Linked DNA regions of Homo sapiens: region 1 is linked to region 2. The links come from fine-mapping of genetic effects on gene expression. A gene starts in region 2. The other region holds a variant in brackets. All regions are shown on one strand. Distances are from middle to middle. Region 1 overlaps SDCCAG8 (SHH signaling and ciliogenesis regulator SDCCAG8). Region 2 holds the start of SDCCAG8 (SHH signaling and ciliogenesis regulator SDCCAG8).

What was found. PIP is the estimated chance that this variant, and not a neighbour inherited with it, causes the effect.
Region 1: its variant is fine-mapped to the expression of SDCCAG8 in sun-exposed skin (GTEx, PIP above 0.99). The same link has a PIP of 0.9 or more in unexposed skin.

Annotation. Positions count from the first base shown.
Region 1 is chr1:243,482,992-243,494,362 of GRCh38, reverse strand. SDCCAG8 (SHH signaling and ciliogenesis regulator SDCCAG8) reads right to left here. Exons shown (of 18, transcript NM_006642.5): 17 at 5,223-5,349. It also overlaps a transcript of AKT3 not described here. Among named protein-coding and RNA genes, the nearest start is that of MIR4677, 140 kb to the right of the region's middle. RefSeq lists enhancers at 3,477-4,000, 4,001-4,524, 9,714-10,272. The variant A/G (reference allele first, on the strand shown) is at 6,639.
Region 2 is chr1:243,250,100-243,261,470 of GRCh38, reverse strand. It overlaps SDCCAG8 (SHH signaling and ciliogenesis regulator SDCCAG8), which reads right to left and starts at 5,430. Exons shown (of 18, transcript NM_006642.5): 1 at 5,231-5,430. The coding sequence starts at 5,297. It overlaps CEP170 (centrosomal protein 170), which reads left to right and starts at 6,190. Exons shown (of 20, transcript NM_014812.3): 1 at 6,190-6,431.

The DNA of each region.
Region 1 (11,371 bases), 230 kb before region 2:
AGTGTCTTGTACACAGTTTTGAAAGAATCAGGGCAAACTTTAACAGAGTCAGTTTTTATTTGAAAAATATTTTCTGGGAATGTATCAGTGTTTATTTTTGAGACTGACAATTCGGGTGAAAATCAGGATAAAAACAAAAAAACAACAATTTGGTTGAAATCAAATTGTTTGTTTTCATCTATTTAGAATTCTTTCCAAAAAATCTTGGTTCAGGAGGAGGCTTTTTAATTTATTTTATTCAATGTATTTGCTGTTCTATTCAAGCGCCATCTGTCTTACAGGTAGCTAACTTTGTGGTAGCTCCTAAGTCAGCTGGGCGAGGCCCCCAGGGCTCCTGGAAGGACCACAGTAAATTAGGTGACACCTCCAAGGCCTAACATGGGCAGCCTGCAGCAGCTCCGCCTTGCAGCCAGGCCTCCCTCGGCAGGGAGTCTTGCTCCCTGAGAGCTGTCACTTTTCTAGAACCTCCCTTCTCCCTTTGCTTCCAGTTGCAATGGGCCTTTCCTCCCTTCATCATCTTCTGTGTCTCTGTGTCCCCTGCTTGTTTTCGGCTCTCTTCTATGAGTCCTTTGGTATAATGAGATAATGTCGATGATCTTGAATATAATCACATATGGCTGCTGGATCCATGCACAAGTTTAAATCAAATTAGAAAGTAAATTCACTGCCAAGAATGCTTAAAAGTCATAGGGCCAACTGATTAACCACTGACAAGTCAGTTTCCGACTCTGTTTTCTAAACTGTAAGTGATTCATATGAGGGGACTAAAAGGGAATCACTCCCCAGATTGAACACTGCAGACAGAACCAAGCAGCCTGCTCAGGATACGACGGCTACCAGAAAATGCAAGTCAGCCAAAACCGTATTCATTACCAAATAAGAAAGCAGACACAGAAAATCATCTTGATGGTTGAGACCATCCTCTAAGTGGACAGATAATTTCTGTTTTCCCCTGTCCCAGATGCCATTCTCCCCAAGACTCATGTTTCCTCACCAGCTGGCTCCAACCTTCCTAGCCAGATGTTAGAGCCCCCAGGCTCTGGGCCGCAGACCCCTGACCCTGCTCCAAGCTGTCAGGCCCTGCCCAAACTCCCCTGAGACCCACCACCCTCACCCCGAATCCCCCTCCCCCCACCCCCACCACCAAGGTTTCAGCCTCCCCCAGCCAGGGCCTGCCTCTCAAGAGGGCGAGAGTGCGACTACCCAGCCCAGTCTCAAACAAAAGACAGGCCAGGGTGTGTGTCTGGAGGCCCTGACCCTCCCGGAATACAGAGTGTGGGGAACTGCATCTAGGCAAAGCTGGGCTAGTGCTTCAGTGTCTGTTTCTCCACAAGGACAAGTAAGAGCCATTTCATGACATTTAAAAGCTATTTTCTTGAAGTTGTTTCCGAACCCAGGTGAGGCAGGAGATCAATAATGCCATTATTTGTAGTCACCCTAAACTAAGAACAAGCCAAGAGGCCGGGCAAAGCTCATGCCTGTAATGCCAGCACTTTGGGAGGCCAAGGTGGGCAGATCACCTGAGGTCAGGAGTTCGAGACCAGCCTGGCCTACGTGGAGAAACCCAGTCTCTACTAAAAATACAAAATTAGCCAGGCGTGGTGGCAGGCACCTGTAATCCCAGCTACTTGGGAGGCTGAGGCAGGAGAATTGCTTGAACCCAGGAGGCAGAGGTTGCAGTAGGCCAAGACCATGCCATTGTACTCCAGCCTGGGCGACAAGAACAAAACTCATCAAAAAAAAAAAAAAAAAAAAAAACAGCTGGGCGCAGTGGCTCACGCCTGTAATCCCAGCACTTTAGGAGGCTAAGGTGGGCGGATCATTTGAGGTCAGGAGTTCAAGACCAGCCTGGCCAACATGGCGAAACCCCGTTTCTATTAAAAATACAAAAAAATTAGCTAGGTGTGGTGGTGGGTGCCTGTAATCCCAGCTACTTGGGAGCCTGAGGCAGGAGAATCACTTGAAGCCGGGAGGCGGAGGTTGCAGTGAGCAGAGATTGCACCACTGTACTCCAGTCCGGGTGACGGAGCAAGACTCCGTCTCAAAAAAAAAAAAAAAAAAAAAAAAGCCAAGAAACGAGCCGAGAGCTTGAGCCAGTGCCCTGAGTCCTGCCCACCGCAGACAGCGCCGGGGAGCGGGGAGGATGGGGGTTCTCGTGGCCAAAAGCATCCATGTGGCAGCTACCACTACCAGGGGCTCCCTCTGCCAGCCATGTTGTTGTGAGTGTTTCAGAATTCAAGCAGAAACAATTAGAATAATGAAGCCTGCCAACAGGCTAGACACTTCCTGTTGGAGGCCACAGGCCAGCCTGAGCCCCACCACCAGGGGCAGCGGGGCTCAGGACCCAGGACAGGGAGGGAAGGAAAGGGGTGGACTTTGCTTTGGAACCATTGCCCGACCCATTCTCTTCTGGGTATTAAGTGGACAGAGATGTTTAGAGTTTGACATGCAAAATTAAGTTAAGCTTAACTCATCCAGGCTGAGAAAACGGAAGCCTTTAGTTAAACCATCTCTAACCCGGACATGAGGACAGCTCTAACCCTCAGCTGCCCAAGATCTGGACCCACAGGCCACTCCAGGAAAACAGAGAGGGTGGCTGAGCACTCCGGAGCCCTCAGGCGGCACCGCATCCAAAATACCTGCTCGAACCTACAGCAGCCTCGCCCACATCATGGCTCAGCAGAAGCCTAACTCACAACTCAAGCTGATTCCATGACAAGAAGGCATCGCAGAGGCTGAAGCCCACTGACAGCCCCTACCTAGAGGTGAAGGCCAGGCTTAGCCAGAAAAAGCAGGCTCTGGGTTTAGATATTCAGCAGAGAGCTTGCAAACCTGGATCCCTGCCTCCTCTCTGACCACTAGTATTTGCAACTGAAAGCCAACATTCCCTCTACCAAATTTCTTTTGTCATGTTCATATTAAAATAACTCCAAGTGTAATATTTGAATCTGAAAGGCCGCTTTAGAGATGAGCCAGATGGGCCAGTATCAGATAGCACAGGAATGGGCAAATCATTGCTGTTGCTTCAGGCAAAAGAAGAAAGAAAGACCTGCTAGTTTTTCTGAGGATTTTTTGAGGTTTGGGGTTTTTTTAATGCGTTTTGTGAAAATTTTGCAACTCATTTGGCAATAGCCAGATTTTTAAAGCCCTGGAAGAAGCTTCTAAGCATCGGTGATCCATGTTAAGATCTAAGTGTGCTGTAAAGCAGGCAGATGGGGAGTTAAAAGGCAAAGCCCACGTTCTCCTGATCTAGTCCAGAGCCCAAAGGAAGCTGCCGTGTGCTCCAGCTTCCACGGAAGACTCCCCACAACCTGAGGTCTGACAGAGTTCTTGGCTTTAGAGGCTGAAGATTCACTCATGCCAGGAGTCACGGTCCCTCCCTCCTATGTGACAAGAGCCTAGTCACCTGCCAGGAGACCTAGTGGCTCCAGTGGTCCTGATCTTTGGCTGGCCAGGCCTAAAGCAGGTGCTGCTGGGGCCCTCCCTGGGGACCTGCCCACAGGGCTGGGTTCTGGGCTGGGTCTGGTGGAGGATGAGGGGGTCATCCTGAAAGCAGAGGGGAGGGGAGTGGCACTGGTCCCACAGCTGCTGCTCTGCAGGCCTCTGCCTTCCCTGAACCTCTCCCAGGACCCTCTGAAGATGAGGGAGAAAGGAAACACCCTCACACGTCCTCAGCCTGTGTGCCCAAGGGCCCGTGGGGCATCCCGCCTGCACTCAGCACTCCCAGTAGCCCGTGAAGCCAGGCGTGCACCATGCCCACTGTGCAGAGGAGAAACTGAGGCTGGAAAAAGGCTTAAGTTACTTGTCCGAAGCGGGGGCAGGGGATTCAGCACAGTGACACAACCTGGAATAATTCTCTGTTCTTTCCAGCTCCAAACACTTCAGAGGTTTTCAAAATGTAGTGTCGTCCAGAATCATCCCAACAGCTTGGCAAAATTCAGGTTCCAGGGCCCTGCCATGGAGCGTGCCAGGTGAGGCCTCGCCTCCTAGATTAGCTGTGGCAGTGCGGCTGTGGCTCGGACTTTGAGCGGCCCGCTCCCCCACAGTCCCTGGGAGCAGTCTCAGAAGCATGGGGACAGTAGAGGCATTTCCACCTCCAGGCCTTAGCTCCGTGGCGCCTGGGTGTGCTCATTTACTGTCTGTGAACACATGTTTGGCAGAGGGATTTTGGACCGAGTGGGAAAAGTCAGTACTTACAGGTTCCTTGAGCACAGGGTCATTTTGTGAGGAGAATGAGACTCCTCTTCGTTTTCATTTCCAGATGCATTTTTCATATTAATCATTCCAAGCACTTACTGCCTGAAGTCCCCAGGGCACTCACAGAGCACCTGGGTGCAATCCTAATTAAAGGCGGAGGCCTTGGTCAGCCCACGGACCACCTCATTATCCTAACAAACTGCTTGACGGGGCAAAATGCACAGCCTCTCTGACAGGAAGAGAAGCGATTTAGCAAACGAGGTTTCATACTGTGTTCCAAATTCACCGGGACACTTTCCTTCCTCCCTTTTCCCTGCTGGTGGCCCCGGATCTAACCTGAATGGGGAAAGCCTGGGCTGTGGAGTCAGGCTTAGCCTCCGTTTGCGGTGTCCCTACTTGCCAGCTGTAATGCTTGTCTGGGCCTTAGTTTCCCTATCTAAACCATGAAGACAATAAAGTCAGCATCGCCTGCTTGTTCAAGGGTAAAGGGAATTAATGCATGTTCTGTGTGTAACACTGCCGGGTGCTCTGCAAGCACTCCAGATATTAGCCCAGTAATCAGTCAGCTAATTTAGGATGAGATGCCTGCCTTCCATTCAAGACGACTTTGCTAATTGGGAACACCTCTTTCCTCAACCAATTCAAACCATACACGACCTTCAGAGGCAGCTCAAGGCCACCATCCTCCAAAAAGCCTGTTCTGCCGCCCACGGCCGTCCTCCCGCTTCTCCCTGCTCTCGCACCCTCCGCAGCCTGCACGGCGCAACTTGGCACTCGGTGTGGTTCGTTGATTCGCGGGCCGGGGTCTGTTCACCTGCACGGACTTTAACTCCCTCACCAGGACGGGCCCATGGCTCCGCTTCTCTGGGTCCTGCACTGTGCCCAGCACAGTCTTCGGGACCTCCCTCCCAGCTTACTGCTAACCGATGTGATCCGTGAGAAAGCCGGCCTGTTGAGGTGCATAAAAGATCCACCTGTAGACGCCCGCCCAAGGACTCCCACCTGCGCCGCGTTCTGCACAGTACCTGGGTCCGCAGCCGGTCCACCTCTTCCGACAGGCTCTGCCTCTCCAGGAGAAGCTGGTTCTGCTTGCTGAGGAGCTGCACCAGCTGCTGGGCTGTGGCCTGGCTGTGCTTATCCAGCTGCCTTAGCCTGGAGAAAAATCCACCGCAGAATTAAAGAGGGATAACGTCAGCCTTTCAACAGGCCCAGGGGCTGTGTGTATCTGAGGGAAGCCCCTGATAGGGAACCATGAGCAGGACGCCTAGGGTGACCCTGAGGTGCCAGGCTCTGGCTGGCACTAGGTCCTTGGTACGCACTGTGTGAAGGTAACATTCTAGCAAATGTGCGTGGGAACTGGGAGCCATCTCAGTACACTATCAATTAGAAAACACGCAGATAAGTGGGGTAAGTAGAAGGAAAAGGAAGCTTTGAACTCCCAAGCAGAGGTCAAAGATGAGGGGCCTAAATGCCGCCATTGTTCAGCTGGAAAGGTCTCTGGCAGGCTGAGCAGACGGCCGCCCCGGCTGGGGAAGTGGGTGAGGGCCGTGGAAACACTGAAGTAAGGGTTTTCCATTATTAATCACTCAGTCAATCACGAGCTCCGGCATCGCTGACCAGATGTCTTTAAAGATCCTAAATTTGTCATTCTGCTGATGGGCGCTCCTCTCCAGACTTGCTAATTCACTCAGACCATTATCCTCATCTGTCCACAGTCGGCTTCCTACAGCCAGCAGCACAGTCACCCATGGAACTGTTGGCTTTGGATTAAATGTGGAATTGAACGACTACCCAGAAGTGTTCTGGAAAGAAGCGAGATGTGTGGCCTGCCTCACCGTCCTCACCCATCAAAAGCACCAGCAGGCACGTTAACTCGAATTCTCACAAGGAAAAGGCCATTAAAGCTCAAGGTGCATTTCAAACTCCAGGCTACTGAGCCGAAGGCCTCGTGGGCCGTTCTGCGGACACCGGCCTCTGGCTGCCCTCAGTCCGGGCTCTCCTGGGACTCCGGGCACAACTAAACTTACACGGCCACACGTTTGGGCCTTCGGGTTGGGATAGGTTCCTTTACAAAAAAGGCCGCACATGTGGGCACAGGTACCACTGCCCTCTGGGAAACCCGGCGATGGTCGGTACCTGCCTCCGGCGCTGCTCGGCCCACACCCTCCCATTTCCCCACGGCTCCCCCGGCCCTGCCCCATCGCCCTGCTCAGCCTCCGATGGATTTGGCTAGAGTCTTTGGTCCAGGGGCCCGAGCCCCCAGCCCTGACCCTTCCCCAGAACGCACCATGACTCCCTGTTTTCAGCCACACCCAGCGTTGTCCGGGTCTGCGGGGCGCCCTACCTGTGCCGGGGGAGGCGGGAGCAGCAGCCTAGGACCCCGCCCAGGCAGAGCCGGCACTACGCATGCTCCCAGGAAGCCCCGCCTCCCCGGGCTTGGC[A/G]CCTCCGACTGCCACGCCCACAATTCCGCACCACCGCCCCCCTTGCCTGTCCCGACAAGGGCCTCCTGCTGCCCGCAGGTTCTGGAGAAAGTGTAAGGACTAAGGGACGCCCTGGCGCCTCTTTGGAGCCTGGGCAACAGCCAGGCCCTGCCCTGCCTCCAGGATCAGGCTGGCCTCAACAGAACAGCAAAGATCCTCCATCCAAGTAGGAGTGTTTCCCTGTGTGTGTGATGTATATATATGGTGATGCTCCAACACCCCACCTCATCCTTCCCTCTGATCTTGGAGGAAAAGTAGGTTTCCTTCTGGCAATACCTAAGGCCATCGCTGCTCTGGGAAGCCTCATCGGCCCCTACCCGTCCCCATCACGCTGGGGCTGAGGCAGCCTTTCCTGGGAGCTACCCTCAAAGCCACCCAGTGGATCACAGAAGCTCTCCTGCAAGGCCCCAGGGGGGGGCCCGGGCTGTCCTGAACAGTGAGCGGCCGGGAGAGAGGAGGACGTCCCGGGCCAGCGGACTGGGGAACCTGCCTAGGCCGACCCTCTGACACAGGCAGGCGGCCACCATTCATCTGAGCACCTGCCCTGCTGTGGGGCCCAGGAGTGGGTCCCATTGAAGAGACAGAGATGGTAACAGCTCTTTTCCTTGAGAAGCAGACAATCTGATGCTTCCGTATTTAAATTAGTGGGTGGAAAGCATCATTCGCCCTTGAGCTCTGGAACCCTAAGGTGGCTTTTCCCCTCCGATGAAGGCCTACCTGTGGAGAGAGCTACTGGCTAAGAGCAACTGAGGTAGCCCCGTGGCTTCCTGCTTGCTCGAAAAGAATGGAACAGAAACGTGACAAATGACATCATGACATTGCTGCATGGCAAGAAGGTGCCAGGAAACGTGACAAGTGACACCATGACATGGCTGCATGGCAAGAAGGTGCCACGAGCAGCCATTGTCCATGTGGTCCCTTGCCCTGTGCTTGGATCAAATGAGATGATGGTCCTTTGGACCGATGGGCTCAGTATGTGGTTTTGAACTCCTGAAAAGGGATGGCAGCCCATCCAGGGCAATGGGCAGGGCCAAAGCCGCTCTCACAGCATAAACACCGGTCACGGCCGGCCACCCTGGCTCCACCTTCAGCGATGGGGCCGGTTCTGGCCTAGACCTTCCTCCTATGGAGCCCTCAGAACCTGGAGGAGGTTTAGTCCAGAGTGCTTTGCAACCTGGGGGCCTGGGAAGGCTATAGCGATTACTGGGGTGGGAAGGAGGAAGGAGACACCACCCAGACCCCGCTGAATCAAGTGCCTGGGTGTGAGCCCCACAAGACAGCAGGGGACCAGCTGACCAGGATGTCCACACACAGAAGCACCCCTGCTGTGAGAAGTGAGATCCCTAAGAAGGGGCAGCTCTCCCTTCACAGCTAAGAGCTGAGGATGGATTCCAATTGACTCAATTTTTAAATCAACTTGAACACTCCCAGTATTACAAATATTGGGAAAAGAGATTTTTTTTTTTTTTTTTTTTTTTTTTTTGGAGGCAGAGTTTTGCTCTTGTTGCCCAGGCTGGAGTACAATGGTGCGATCTCGGCTCACCGCAACCTCCGCCTCCGGGTTCAAACAATTCTCCTGTCTCAGCCTCCCGAGTAGAGTAGCTGGAATTACAGGCATGTGCCACAACGGCGGCTAATTTTGTATTTTTAGTAGAGACGGGGTTTCTCCATGTTGGTCAGGCTGGTCTCAAACTCCTGACCTCAAGTGATCCACTCGCCTCAGCCTCCCAAAGTGCTGGGATTACAGGCGTGAGCCACCACGCCCGGCCCGAGATTGATTTTTTTTTTTTTCTTGATACGAAGTCTTGCTTTGTTGCCCAGGCTAGGGTGCAGCGGTGCTATGTCAGCTCACTGCAACCTCCGCCTCCTGGGTTCAAGCGATTCTCCTGCCGTAGCTGGGATTATAGGCTCCTGCCACCGTGCCCAGCTAATTTTTATATTTTTCGTAGAGACAGGGTTTCACCATCTTGGCCAGGCTTGTCTTGAACTCCTGACCTCATGATTCACCCACCTCAGCCTCCCAAAGTGCTGGGATTACAGGCATGAGCCACCGCGCCTGGCTGAGATTTTTTGAAAGTTATTTATTTTTGGAAAAGCCTCCAACCCTGCACAAACCAGCCTACCCTCTGTTAATGGCTATTTCATTGCCATCATTCATTCAGAAGAGATTTCTTGGGGTGTCCTAGACACATAAGCTCTCTTTTCTTTTCCATGGTGGTTACTGCTCTGTCATATTTGTGGTGTTGAGTTCACCTCTTCATCCACCCACAGTTTCAAATAGCACTGTTGATGACTGCTAACACCTTGAGCCCCTGGGCTCACTGCGCCACAATTACCTATGTAAATTTCATTAATAAACTACCTGTTAAATTCAATAATTATCTTAATTAAAAGTTCACTATAGTCCTAGGAGGTACATGCTAGTATCATCCCCATTTCACAGATGAGAAAACAAGCTGAGATGTTAATTAACTTGCACAAAGTCACACAAGTAATCGGTAAAGCTCGGAGTCAAATCGAGCCAGCGCCCAAGTGTCCTTAACCATCGTTAATGGTGGTTAACTCACTGAGTTAATTCACCAAACGAACCAAGCCTTGCTAAACACCTCTCTTCTTCTGCTTCTTCTTCTTTTTTTTTTTTTGAGATGGAGTCTTGCTCTGTTGCCCAGGCTGGAGTGCAGTGGCATAATCTTGGCTCACTGCAACCTCTGCCTCCTGGGTTCAAGAAATTCTCCTGCCTCAGCCTCCCAGGTAGCTGGGACTATAGGCGCGCACCACCACACCTGTCTAATTTTTGTATTTTTAGTAGAGATGGGGTTTCACGATGTTGGCCAGGCTGGTCTCTAACTCCTGACCTCGTGATCTGCCCGCCTTGGCCTCCCAAAGTGCTGGGATTACAGGCGTGAGCCACCGCGCCCGGCCAACACCTCTTAAGGGTCAAGTACTGATTTAAGACCTGGGGGTCCATCAAGAATGACAAATGCTCCCGGCTCTCGGGCGGTTCCCGGCCAATGGAGGAGAGACTCACTTGTAAAAAAAACATGCTCAACTCAAACAGGACACTGAGGCATGAAGAGAAATGGCCAATATTGCAGATGAGAAGCCTGGGAGGGCTTGCGCCTGCTTAGACATGGCTCATGATCGTCGTATGCTGAGCACTTTTATGTCGGGCACTAGACTTACTGTTTATTTAGCACTCACAATTCCATGAGGCAGGAACTAATTATTATGCCACTTTAAGGTTAAGGAAACTGAGGCACAGACAACATGAATCATTGATTCAAAGTCACTCAGCGGGCAAGCTGGGATGGGAAAGGATGAGTGGGTGCTTTTCTGGCCAGGGCCAGGGGCGGGGCCTTCCCACTTCGGGGCCGCACTGCAAAGGCCAATGCGTGTCTGGAAACTGCAAGCTGTGCAGTGTGGCTGCACCAGAGGCTGCAGGCTGCTCAGAGGAAGGCGACGCTGGACTCTGTAGCCAAACCAGCAAATATGGACTTCGTCCTGCAGGCAATGGCAGTGCCATTTAACAGACAGAGGATGGCAGGAGGGATCGGCCTGGCGTAGAAGAGACGTTCTGGGGTCAGGGCGAGTCCGAGGTACCTGTGGAACACGCACCCACCAGGCAGCTATGCAACTTGGGGCTTAGGAAGGGCCGAGCTGGAGCTCTAGCTGGGTGGGCCAAACCTGCTGGGAGGCGAGACCATGAACGTGGGGGCAAGATTTGCCTGGGAAGGGTTGGCAAAGATTGTCAGTGTGGGGAGTTTGTTAAAAATGCAGCTCTCCGGGCCCGCACGACCCCCCTAGCTGAGAAGCTCTTCTGCAGTGAGAGGGAAGGGCTCGCCCCAGGATAGGGGTTAAGGAACCTCCGCCTTCAATGGCTGGCAGTGGACTGGAATCCGGCAAGACACTGAGAGTGGGATCCTGGAGGGAGGAAAACTGGGAGACGGAGGTCCAGGGAGGAGAGGGGTCAGGGCGGAGTGGCCGGTTTGTGGGAAATGCCACCTGGTGGCGGAGCGCCCTGCGGAGCCTCCTGGCTGGGGCAGAAGCCAGATTTCAGGGGCTGGAAGAGAAAGCCTCTTCTGGTGAGGGGCTGGGCTGGCGGGGAGGTCGCGAGACGGGGTGCGGAGGGTGGGAGCCACCGAAGCCGCTGGGGAGGAGGCACTGGAGGAGAGAGGGGCAATCTTCACGGCAGAGGACGGCGGACTTCCCAAGGGAGGAGGGCGCCTTAGGCAGAAGACTGAGACCCTCCCCCCGAGGCAAGAGTGGAGGCGGGAGCAGGGGCGGGTCGCGGAGGGCGCTCGTGCTCAGCAGCCTCCAGGATCCCCCACGTAGAGGGCACCGCTGTTTGCGAGAAAGGCGACGAGGCAGCGGGGTGGCGGCGGGGACGCTGCTGCGGGGACGAGGGCGCCGGCGGGAGGCAGGGACACGCCGCCCAGCCCAGGGGGCGCGCTCCGAGGAAGACCCGGGCGCCCGCCGCCTCCTCCCCGGGCTCCGCAGCCGCCGCCCCGTGCCCTCCACCTGCGACCTTCACCCCCCTCACCGTCGCCACGGGCCTGGAAACCTCTTCCAGCGTCCGTTTCAGGGCGACTGTCGTTTTGAGAGAGTGCAATTTCTTGTTCTGTGTGTCTTGTTTTTAGCCTTTTCTTCTAGGAGGCATTAAGTCATGAACGGGGCGAGGGGGTTTGCCATCATGG
Region 2 (11,371 bases):
ACTACATCAATTCGTAAAGACAAGGCCCATCCCTGAGATTATATATTTTCTTCTCATATTCATCCTCTCACTTTCTGTGTACCTGGTTCAACTCCTTACTCTCATTTCCATAAGACAAAAACATAGCCCTTAATCATTCATCTGGTCCAAACAAGTGCTGATGGAAGGAACATTAATGATCAAAGGGTCAGAGAGTGGTGTCTAAAGGGGAATCAGGCTCTGGGTGTGTTTTGCTTGGCTTCCTTCTTGGAAGAAAAGAGGGAGGAAAAGAGGGAAAAAGAGAGAAGAAAAAAAAGGAAGCAAAGAGGGAGGGAGCAAGGAAGAAATTGAAATGTTTTTAGAAAAAGCAGAAACTGCCCAATTTGGCCATAAGCCTCATCATTTCCCTTAATGTCTTCCACTGACTCCATCATACCTTTTGATCATTTGCTTGGCACCTAAAGGCAATAATTCTCACATCCAGTCCAAACTTTTCGTTTTACAGTTGAGGAAACGGGAATCCAAGAACAGTGTGTTTCACTTGCCTAAGGTTACCCAGATGGTTGTCAGCAAAGCAAAAGTAAGTGCAGTGACCTGGCTCCCAGCTCCACATTCTCTCCTCTGACCCCACCACACTCTTCCCATAAATTCATCTAAAGGCTGAAACACCAAAATGTTGACAGAAAAAGGTAAAACCAGAATGCAAAATGTATATAGAAAATCATGAGTTCCTGTCATACAAGAAGTTTGTTTCATTTTTCCTTATACTCACCCAACCAAAGGTGGCTAGGAATGAGGTGAATAGGTGAGTCATGTATACAGGTGTTGTTGATAAAATTGTTATCTATTCCCAACGCTGCAGCAAGAGATGAGACATGATTCTGTTATTAAGGCTAAAATACTGCATTTCTAGCAATTTTTCTCCTTTCTGATATCCCCTTACACTCAAGTGTGCAGTACTTAAAATAGAGCCTGGATTGCCTATAATTGTGGCTTTTTTCACCCTTTCTTGGCTATGAAATAGTTCATTTCATACCTCTTGGCTTTATACAACGATGTATTGAATTTAGAGAAGGCGCATGTGCTATCTTGCCCACTTACAAATGTAGTTCTCGGCCATTCTGTGGTTGTTGAATTATAACTACCCATAGAGTAAATGAACACCTAACCTTACTGCCAAGAGACCTCCCAAATCACTTCCAGTTCTAGATTAAATTCTGTGGTTCCCAGGATACCCAGGACACATACACTTTTAACCACACTGGAAACTTTCAGACCATTTACTATGTAGGAATAATACAACAGATCTGTGGGGGCAACAAAGCCTTCCGGTTTTTCTGCCAGAACTCTCGTTTTGAAGAAGAATCATTAAATGTCTCCAATTTCTTGTAAAAGGGCATAGGCGACCCAAAGCAAGAGATATCTTTAGAGAAGTCAAACAGCAAATCCACTGAAAAGTGTAAGGGAATGGATGAAAGGTGAATGTGGAGCTGCTCCAAGATCATCAAGGTCAAAATGAGGCAAGGATCTCATTTTAAAAGCAAGAAAGTAAACGCTGACTCAGTTTTCACATTACAACTTCAAATTATTGATATACCATAATAGTACCAAAATTAAAGAAATGAGGAAAATATCTTTTTTTGTTTGTTTGTTTTGGAGATAGGATTTCACTCTTGTTACCCAGGCTGGAGTGCAGTGGCGCGATCTCAGCACACTGCAACCTCCGCCCACCGCAACCTGCGCCTCCCAGGCTCAAGCAATTCTCCTGCCTCAGCCTCCCGAGTAGCTGGGGTTACACGCGCCTGCCACCACGCCTGGCTCATTTTGTATTTTTAGTAGAGACAGGGTTTCTCCATATTGCTCAGGCTGTTCTCGAACTCCAGACGTCAGGTGATCTGCCCGCCTCGGCCTCCCAAAGTGCTGGGATTACAGGCGTGAGCCACCGCGCCCAACCTCATTTTAAAAACAAGAAAGTAAATGCTGACTCAGTTTTCACATTAGAACTTCAAATTTTGATATACCATAATAGTACCAACATTAAAGAAATAAGGAAATTTGTTTTTGTTTTTGTTTTTGTTGTTTTTTGAGACAGAGTCTCGCTCTGTCGCCCAGGCTGGAGTGCAGTGGCGCGATCTCGGCTCACTGCAAGCTCCACCTCCTGGGTTCATGCCATTCTCCTGCCTCAGCCTCCTGAGTAGCTGGGACTACAGGCGCCCGCCACCACGCCCGGCTAGTTTTTTGTATTTTTTTTTTTAGTACAGACGGGGTTTCACCGTGTTAGCCAGGCTGGTCTCCCATCTCCTGACCTCGTGATCCGCCCGCCCCAGCCTCCCAAAGTGCTGGGATTACAGGCGTGAGCCACCACGCCCGGCCCCAGGAAAAGATCTTTTTAAAATGGAAGTACGATCACGGAAAATAGGGAAAGCATTTTGCATTTTTATGCGGCCACTTCCTGGCTGAATATCAATGAAGGGATATTAGTAGTGACTACATGTGCAGTTATTTACAAGCTAGAGGAAAAACCGGTGAGGAAAGACCAAGACTGTTTATTAGGCTTCCATTAATCATAAACTACGCAAGGCATTTGGGGAAGTAATGGTGGGTAGACAAAACCAAACAAACCAACAAAACCAAAACAAAATAAGACATAGAACTTTAAACTGCATTTTATCTTACTACATAGTAATACAATTCTTAAATTATTAGGCACACTCAAAATAAGGAATTTCCACATAACTCCAGCATTGTTTATTAAGGAACAGAATACTTTACTTTAAAGGGAATTATCAGCCGGGCGCGGTGGCTCACGCCTATAACCCCAGACTTTGGGAGGCTGAAGTGGGCGGATCACTTAAGGTCAGGAGTTCTAGAGCAGCCTGACCAACATGGCGAAACCCAGTCTCTACTAAAAATACAAAAATTAGCCGGGCATGGTGGCGCGTGCCTGTAATCCCAGCTACTTGGGAGGCTGAGGCTGGAGAGTTGCTTGAATCCAGGAGGCAGAGGCTGCAGTGAGCCGAGATGGCACCACTGCATTTCAGCCTGGATGACAGAGTGAGACTCCATCTCTAAATAAATAAATTATACTACTCAAAAATAGCAATTTATATTTGTGAAGAACTTCTGACTGTACTTAAGTTCAGAGTTAATTCTGTTTTGTTTCCTTCCAGAAGCTGTTATATAAGCTAACATACAAAAATAAAAGTGCTACTAAATAAATGATATGTCCTGAAAAACCCATAAACATTTCAGGTTACATTTCCTGATTCACTGTTAAAATTATGAATACGTTTTTTTTTAAGTTGTTTAACTTTTTCTATCCTTCGTATTTGCTCTTGGTGAAATGTTTCCACTACCTTATATTGTTATCACACTAAATTTAAATTTTATTTCAAACTAATTTTAAAATGTATTATCCTTAAATGAAAACCCTTCATTCTGTAATTATTGAAAGCAGTACCACTAGTATTAAACATATTACTATAACATTAATTTAAAATGAACCCCTTTACTGCGTCAAAATGCCTAATGTTAAACAGCCTCCGACAATTATATAAAGACTTAAAATAAGGTCAAAGGAAGAGAAGCATCAGGAAAAACTTTCAATGAAAACAAAAAATTTTTGCCAATCTTAAAAATTACAATTACTCATATCATTGTGCACAGTATTTTTCTTGCTTCCAAATGAAAAGTTAGAAGTGCTTATTTTGTATCTAACAGCTCTTGAAACATCAGTAGGTTGAGGAAGGTGTTCATTAAAACCGATTTTTTTACTCCTGCAGTTTGAATACTGAGAATGTCGACAGTTTGTTAACACAATTGACAGATGTAACAATACATAGTAACCCTTATAAAATCTAGAGTCATGAGAAGATAAACTTTCTAATATTGAAAAACCTTCACTTTGCTTTAAGTAACAAGTATAAATAACAATTAACATTTAATGAGTGCTTGTCTAGTAAGCACTGATCTTTACCCTTACTTTCTATCATAGTAATCTATAATTATTTTTTTTTTTTGTCTTTCTCCCCAACTAATCCAGAAGCTCCATGGGGATAGGAACTTTGTCTTGTTCCTTACTGCATGCCTAGCACCTAGTATGCTTAACACATAGTAGGAGGCACTGACACATAGTAGGCATATTATGCAGAACAACACATGCTTCATAACTTAGTATTCTCAATGTCGCAAACAGTCATGACCTAGAGGCTTATGAAAATGCAACAGAATAGAAAGCAGAGTTTATTACATTTAGTAGAATAAAAATTCTTCAGTGAAACTTATAGTTTATATGTACACATATGTCCCATATAAAATTTATTTCTTACTATAGGTAAACATTTTAAGAAGTCTTAAAATCACTGCTTTATGGGGATTATTTCATTTGCTCCCCACAATAACCCTATGGACAATTCCATAACTTCCATTATAACAGAATCGAAATTTCTAGATGTTATATATGCTGTCCAAGTTGACAGCGCCATCTAAAAGTACAGACATTAAGTCCAACAGAGCTTAAAGGAAAATAAATACAGACATTATTTGTACAGATACTTGCTCATATGGTAATGTGGTAAGAAAATCTAAATTAATAAGGTTTTGATAATAGTAATTATGGCTTGATTAGTAAATACAAACATAGGCTTTGAAGGCAAGCCTGATAATACCTGGCTCTGCAACTAACCAGCTGTGTGGGCTCTGGCCTGTAATTCAACCTCTCTGAGCTTCGCTTTCCCCATGTGTAAAATATTCACACGATTGGTGTAAGCTGCAGATGATTTACTGTATGTAAATAGCCTAAATCAATTAAAAGGGGGCTCTTGTGATTAAAATAATTATTAGTGTTTCCCCCCACTGATCCCATAAATCACATTCAATCCACTGTGCCATAATTTAAATGTGTAAAAACTGTGAATCAGACTTTTATTGGATTAAATAGCAACGTATGGGAACTGAACAAAAATGGCATAGAGCTATCCAAGAGTTTCTGCTGTCGCCGGTTGAGAAAGATGCCAAGTTAAGATCAAGGAGTTGATTGAGGTAACTACGGGAATCTGAGGAAACATCGTTGCTTAACTGTAAAAACTAAATCAAACTATTTCATCCTCCTCAAGACCACAGCAACATCCATCTTGCTCCTCTGTAGCGTGGACGGGGCAGAACCCAGGTGTTAGGAAACGCACCTGGTCTGCTCCCGCCCACTAGGCCCTGGGCACCTCGGGGCTAGGGACAGAGGTTTGGAGCAACTCACCCCGGAGACTCCGTTGATACTGCCCCAGAATCTCCTCCAGGGTAGAGTTCTCCGGGGACTTCGCCATGCACGCACTCTAGGCCCAGAGCTGGGAGTTACGTGGGGAAATGTCCAGCTTTCTCCCTTCCGAGAACAACAGGCCTGTGGCCGGGGAGCGCCCGCCTGCTTCCTGCCGCGGCTGTCACAGGGGAGCCTAGAATCCCGCACAGAGCTCTTGGGGGCTCTTCCCACCCACTGGCCCTCGCTTTGCACGTCGGGAGTTGTAGTCCTCACGTTCAGAACCTGCAAGCTCGACAATCCTCAGGGCCTTCCAGTTACACTACAATTCCCAGAAACCACTGCGCTCCAGGCGCTAGCTTGGACGGTTTGGCTGCCAGAGCCTGCTGCCAAGAGACAGGCTTGCAGGCCCCGCCCTTTTCCTCCAGCCCAGCCTGGTTTAGTCCCGCCTCCATCCCACTCTTCAGCTGCCTGGACCACCCAAATGACAGAAAGGGCTCACTGAAGGCCTTGACGCTTCGAAATTTGCTAATATGCAGCAGTTGATCCCCAGGCTACTCAAGGACGCAGATAGTAAACTCTGAACCCTGCTTCAGTTGCGAGATTTTTTAAAACGGTCGAATAAATCTTCAAGAAATAGAAGCTCTAAATCTTCCAAACAGCCTAGATTGTAAAGGCGGCCGACACTACAACTCCTAGCATGCCCAGCAACCGGACCTTCACTTGGAGTTGGCGCTCTGCCCGCTGGGAACTGTAGTCCTTGTTGGTTGCGGTCCCACCTAACGCCGAGGTCCTCTTCATTGTTCAAGCTGGTCTTTCGGGGCACGCCTGCGCAGTGGGCAAGCTGGAAAAGCGTGTGGGTGAGACCCTCGCACAACCCCTTTTCATTGTCTGTGTGTGGCGCCTGCGCAGTAAGGGATCGTTGGAACTGGGCAGGAGGGGATAGGGTCCGGCTCCTCGCCCTTTCCCGAGGCGCCTGCGCACTAGGCAGTCGGTCTTTGCCGTTACCGCTATGTGTGGGGCGTGTGTGGAATAACGTTATTGCCCAGCGGAGCTGAGGGCCCCGGAGCTCGACCGCAGCGGCAGCGACGACAACAGCGGCGACGACGACGACGACGAGGTGGGGGGAGGACGGCGTGCGAGAGACTCACGGGACGCGACGCGCCCCGCCTCCCCCGTCCGGTCCCTCTCTCCACGGTAAGGGGTAAGTGATGCGATCGGCTGCTCGGTGTAGGCGCCGCAGCCGCAGCCACCGCCGCGGCTGCTTTCCACATCCTGCTCCTCGGGTTTGCGGCGAGGACTCGGGCGCCGCCCGCCGCGGGGCGGGGGTGCGGGGCTGGACCGCGAAGGGGGCGCTTCCCGGGTGCTCCGCGCGGCGCCGCCACCCCCACCCTCTGCCCGCCTGGGACCCGGGGCTTGACGGGACCACCCTTCCCATCCCCCACCCGCCGCCCCCCGGAGCTCCAGTCCTGCGGCCCCCCGGCTTTCCCGAGCCCCTTGCTGCCGCCTCCGCATCCCCTAAGTGCATTGAATCATTTTCAGCTTTCGACTGGCTTTGTGCAGCCCTCCCCCCTCCGCCGTAGCAGTTTGCGAGGGGTGCGGGCGGAGCATTGGAGGGAATGGCTGCGCTGCCGCTGGGGAAGGGATTTTTCCCCCATTGGAGCAGCTCCCCGGGCCAATCCCTTTTGTGTGATTGGTTTTGGGGTGTGAGGCGGTTGGCGAGGTCAGGCGAGCAACCTTTTGGACGCGTTGGGAGGGCGTGGAAGACGCGGTGTCATGCACCCTGCCTGGCGACTGCACCCCGTGGAGGCTCTGGCTCTGTAGTAAACCCGGGGGAGGAGAGAGTGGCTTCCTGTCGGCTTCATTGTCCTAGGATTCAGATGTAGGGTTTTGGTACGTTTCGCTTCCATTTTATGCAAGCGATGAAAAAATAACATTTGCAGCTGCCTAACACAGGGCGGGAAGACGTGGGATTTGTATACTAAGTCACAGAATCTCTGTTCGGTGGTGTTTCGTAGAGTTTTATTTATTTATTTATTTATTTATTTATTTATTTTGAGGAATGTAAGGAAGACAGGGACTATGCCTGCTGGAGTCCAAGCACTGCCAAGGTGATCAATATAAAATTACTAGGTGACGTTGGAGCCTGGGCTAGAGAGGGCCTGACAACGAAGCTGTTGTGTCAGGGAAATGAACAAGCAGAATTGTTTTTTCATTGGGCAGGTAATGCATTTATGTTCCTGAGGGAATGGATACATCTTTCCGTTTATTTTTTAAGCAAGTAAAACAAACAAAACAACTGGCCCAGTACATTTCTGTTACCGAAGTTGTTAACTCATTTTTATTCTCTTAATGAAAATTCAGCCATTTGGGAGGAATTTGGCGAAGCAGATGATACATTTGATTGAAAATGCATATTTTAAAATGATTTAATCCTTAAGCTTACAATGTATGCAGCCGTTTGCTGGCGTTGCTTCTTAAAACACACCAGAAGAGAGAATAAAGCAGGATGGGGAGGAGCAGGTGGAGGAATAATGGGAGAGGAGAGAGTGACATTATGACTATAGTATCTGGATCTTCACTGGTATAACCCTAACTGGGTATGCTTCAGAGACTTAGGAATTCAGCTCTGGAAACAGTACACTGATGAATAGCAACTTATGTATTTTTCTGTTATTATTTTTTAAAAAGTAAAACTAGGGCTGCCTTTAGCTCTTCCTAACTTTGTAGATAACACGGAAGAGCCCAAGTGCACTTGACAGAGGAAGACACTAAAACTCAGAAAGTTAACTGACTTGTCTGCCCAAGCCAGACAGTTAATCGAAGGCAGAGCCAAACGAAACTCAAGGTCCATTCTGCAGAGTGATCTTTCCTGTGTCCCCCTAGCCCTTTTACCTTGTGAAAATGTATGGAAAGCTTCTCTATGTGCTCCCTGAGTAGGCTGTGACTATCACTGAACTTGATTCTCACCGTGATTAATCTAGTTCTTGCCTTTGTGATGTAAAAGTAGTAATCCTCCTAAAATGGACCTTTACTTTCATAAAGTAACTTACTACATGAGGAAAGATGTCCTAACATGTGCTTTTCATAAAAACGAAGTGTTGCAGTGTTTTCCCTACTACCTAATGGTAGCTACTTAACGGTAGGTTTTAATATTATTTCTTGAAAATCAATAGTATTTTATAATAGTATGATGATCAACTCTATAGGCTGTGTTAAAAATAAAATTTCCGCATAACAAGAACCTATGATGTTTATTTTGCCACAGTTAATGAGTTGTAATCATTAATGAGTTATTAGTGATTACTTTTAACTTAAACTAGAATTTACATTTTAAGATATATTAACTTTATGTTTTTTATTGGGTTGATTTTGCCATAAAGTGCTTTTTTCTTCCCTTATAATTTTAATCGTTTAATTTTACGTTGCATTTTAATAGACTTCTTTAAAGGATTTATTATTTATCTTAAATTTCAACTTTAAAAATCTGTAACTAAATTTCAGTATGTGGGATTATATTCAATCATGCTTTAAATGTATTTTACTGGTAAATTTCATTGTGTTCTGAGATTATTTTGTATGGAAATAATCTGCCTGTTCCCTATTTTAACATTAGAATAGTGAAATTTATACTGTAAACCTTAGCATACATTCTGCATATTAATGCTGTTATGGTACTTTTTAAAATTCTGTGCTTCGTGATTTATTTGATTTGTTCCAAGTATCAGTTTCTTGTTCCTTTTTATCTACTGAAAAAAAGAACTAGTTTTATTATTGTATCTGATTGCAATTAGATAATGCTCATCTAGTACTAAATATTGTATATGCTTAAGCTTTTTTGTCAAAATGTTTTTTATTCCACAAAATTGTATTCCTGAAAAATATTTTTTCTATACTAATTAATAGGTAAAGACTTTTCTTTCTTATCTGTCCCAAACACTGGGATGTTAAGCAGTGTACTCTTCAACTAAGTATCTGACAGACAACCTGATATTTAATTGCTAACTAAAGTATCTGTACAGTTGCAAATTATTCTGGAAGTATAACAAAAGAGCAGTTACGTGCCATTTGAAGAATGCTTGGTGAGTAGATAGTATTGACTGGAGCATTCAGTGTTGATCTGTTTCATTAAGAAATGGGATACTTTTGATGGGAAGAAATATCTTTATTTCATTAATAACCAAAATTTCTAATCAGATACCCTAGGTTTTTATTTACTTACTCAAAAATTTCATAAAGGAGTGTTCAGCAGTGAGTTAGCCATTGTGAGAGATAAAAAACATCTGTCTGGTAGTGTGGTTGATTAAACTGGATATATTGTCCAGTTTAGCAGAAATGTTTTAGCCAAAGCCAGTGACATAGCCAATGTGTGTTGCTGTTAAAGCCCACTTTTATATCAAATAAAGGTGGAAAAACAAAACAGCAAAAGCAAAGTTAAAGAAAACCTCATAAAATCTACTTACATACAAACAGGAATTGCAGAAAGTATAGAAGTGGAAAAGAATCCCAAGCATGCATTGTTGAGGTCTGAAAAACAAATGACACATAGCAGAGAACAAGTCATTTTTTAAGTATATCCATAAGTAATAAATGATATAGAAAATATTACCCTTTGAAACACAATATTTATTGAATCGTTGAATAATACCTACCAAATTTTGAACATTTCCTAGGTGCCAGGAAGTTTATGTGTGTGTGGTGTGTGTGTATTTAATTTCTGCAACAAACTTCTAAATTAAGGTATTATTTTTACACATTGAAAAAATTTGAAGCATAGAGTTAGTGAATAACTTTGCCTCTGCGTTACACATTCCTAAGTGATAGGGCCTATAATTGAACCTTTGTCTTTTTGGCTAAAGCCAAAATTCTTTCTACTCATCTTTTTTAGTAAGTTAAAGGGTACCACTTATTTCCTTACTCTGGTTCATAAAATTTTAGAATTCAAGGGAACTTTAGAAGTCAGCTCATACAATGTATCACCCACTACTAATATCTCTGAGATGTTATTGGGTCCAACTTCTCCACAAACCCTTCCCTGGGCATAGGAAAGCCTGTTTAGCTTCCAAAAAGTGTAATAGGAAGATCTCACTTAAATTGAGCTAGTAGCTGCTTTTACTATATAACTTCTTCCCACTGGTTGCAATTCAGTCTTTAGGAGTAAGATGAAGTAAGGTTTTTCTCAATATATTAGCTAGATTTTCTCTTGTCTAAATGTTAGGACACCTCCAACTTCATATGGTTTCCTTTGCCATCCCTCACATCTCTCAGCTGGATTCAATCAGTTTTGTCAGTGCTATTCTTTGTGTTCTGATCTTGTTTCCATATTTAATTCTGCAGTTATGGTCTGAATGCAAAGTGCAGTGAAATTGTCCCTTTCCTTATTTCAAGCCATACACTTGTGTTTAAAGTCTAAAATTGTATCAACTCTTTAACAACAGTCATCTCTGCTAATTCAAAGCAAAAAGCAGAGAGAGAGAGAGAAATGTTACATGGCTTTTCAAGTTATATTTATGTAATTCAAGGTACTATTTTTTGAGATTTTGTTCTCCTTTTCTAATGTTCATAAATGGCCTTTATTAAATGATAGTGTTAGTAACACCTATTAAGTAATGATAGGTTAAGTTTCTTTTGATGTTGGTCATGGGGTTTTGTTTTATTTTAGTGTTCCTGATTAACCAATAAAAAGTTGGCAGCCTTATGTTGATTCTTAATTTGTTTTCTGAAAAATTGGTCTGGAAACCACTGATGTAGTCAACATAAACCAACATTTTTACACTTAGCTAGATTTCTCCCATTGTGTATAAACACACAGGTGATGTTTTTAAACCAGTATTTTACCATTGCCTCCTATTAAATTTCATCTCCGTGAACGTAGCTATAGTTAAAACTTGAGATCTTCTTGAATCATGATTCTGTCATCCAAGGGATTAGCTTTCCTTCCTGGCTTTTTGACATTTATAAATTCAACAAGCCAAACTCTTATGTCTCCATCCTGGCCATATACTTAATATAGCCAAGGACAAAGCCATGCACATTTATAAATAGAATGAATGTTACATAAATAAAAGATGCTGGGAGGAAAGGTGACACAAAAATAATGAAAACCATTCGGATGGGTTTTTTTTGTTTGTTTGTTTTTGGGGC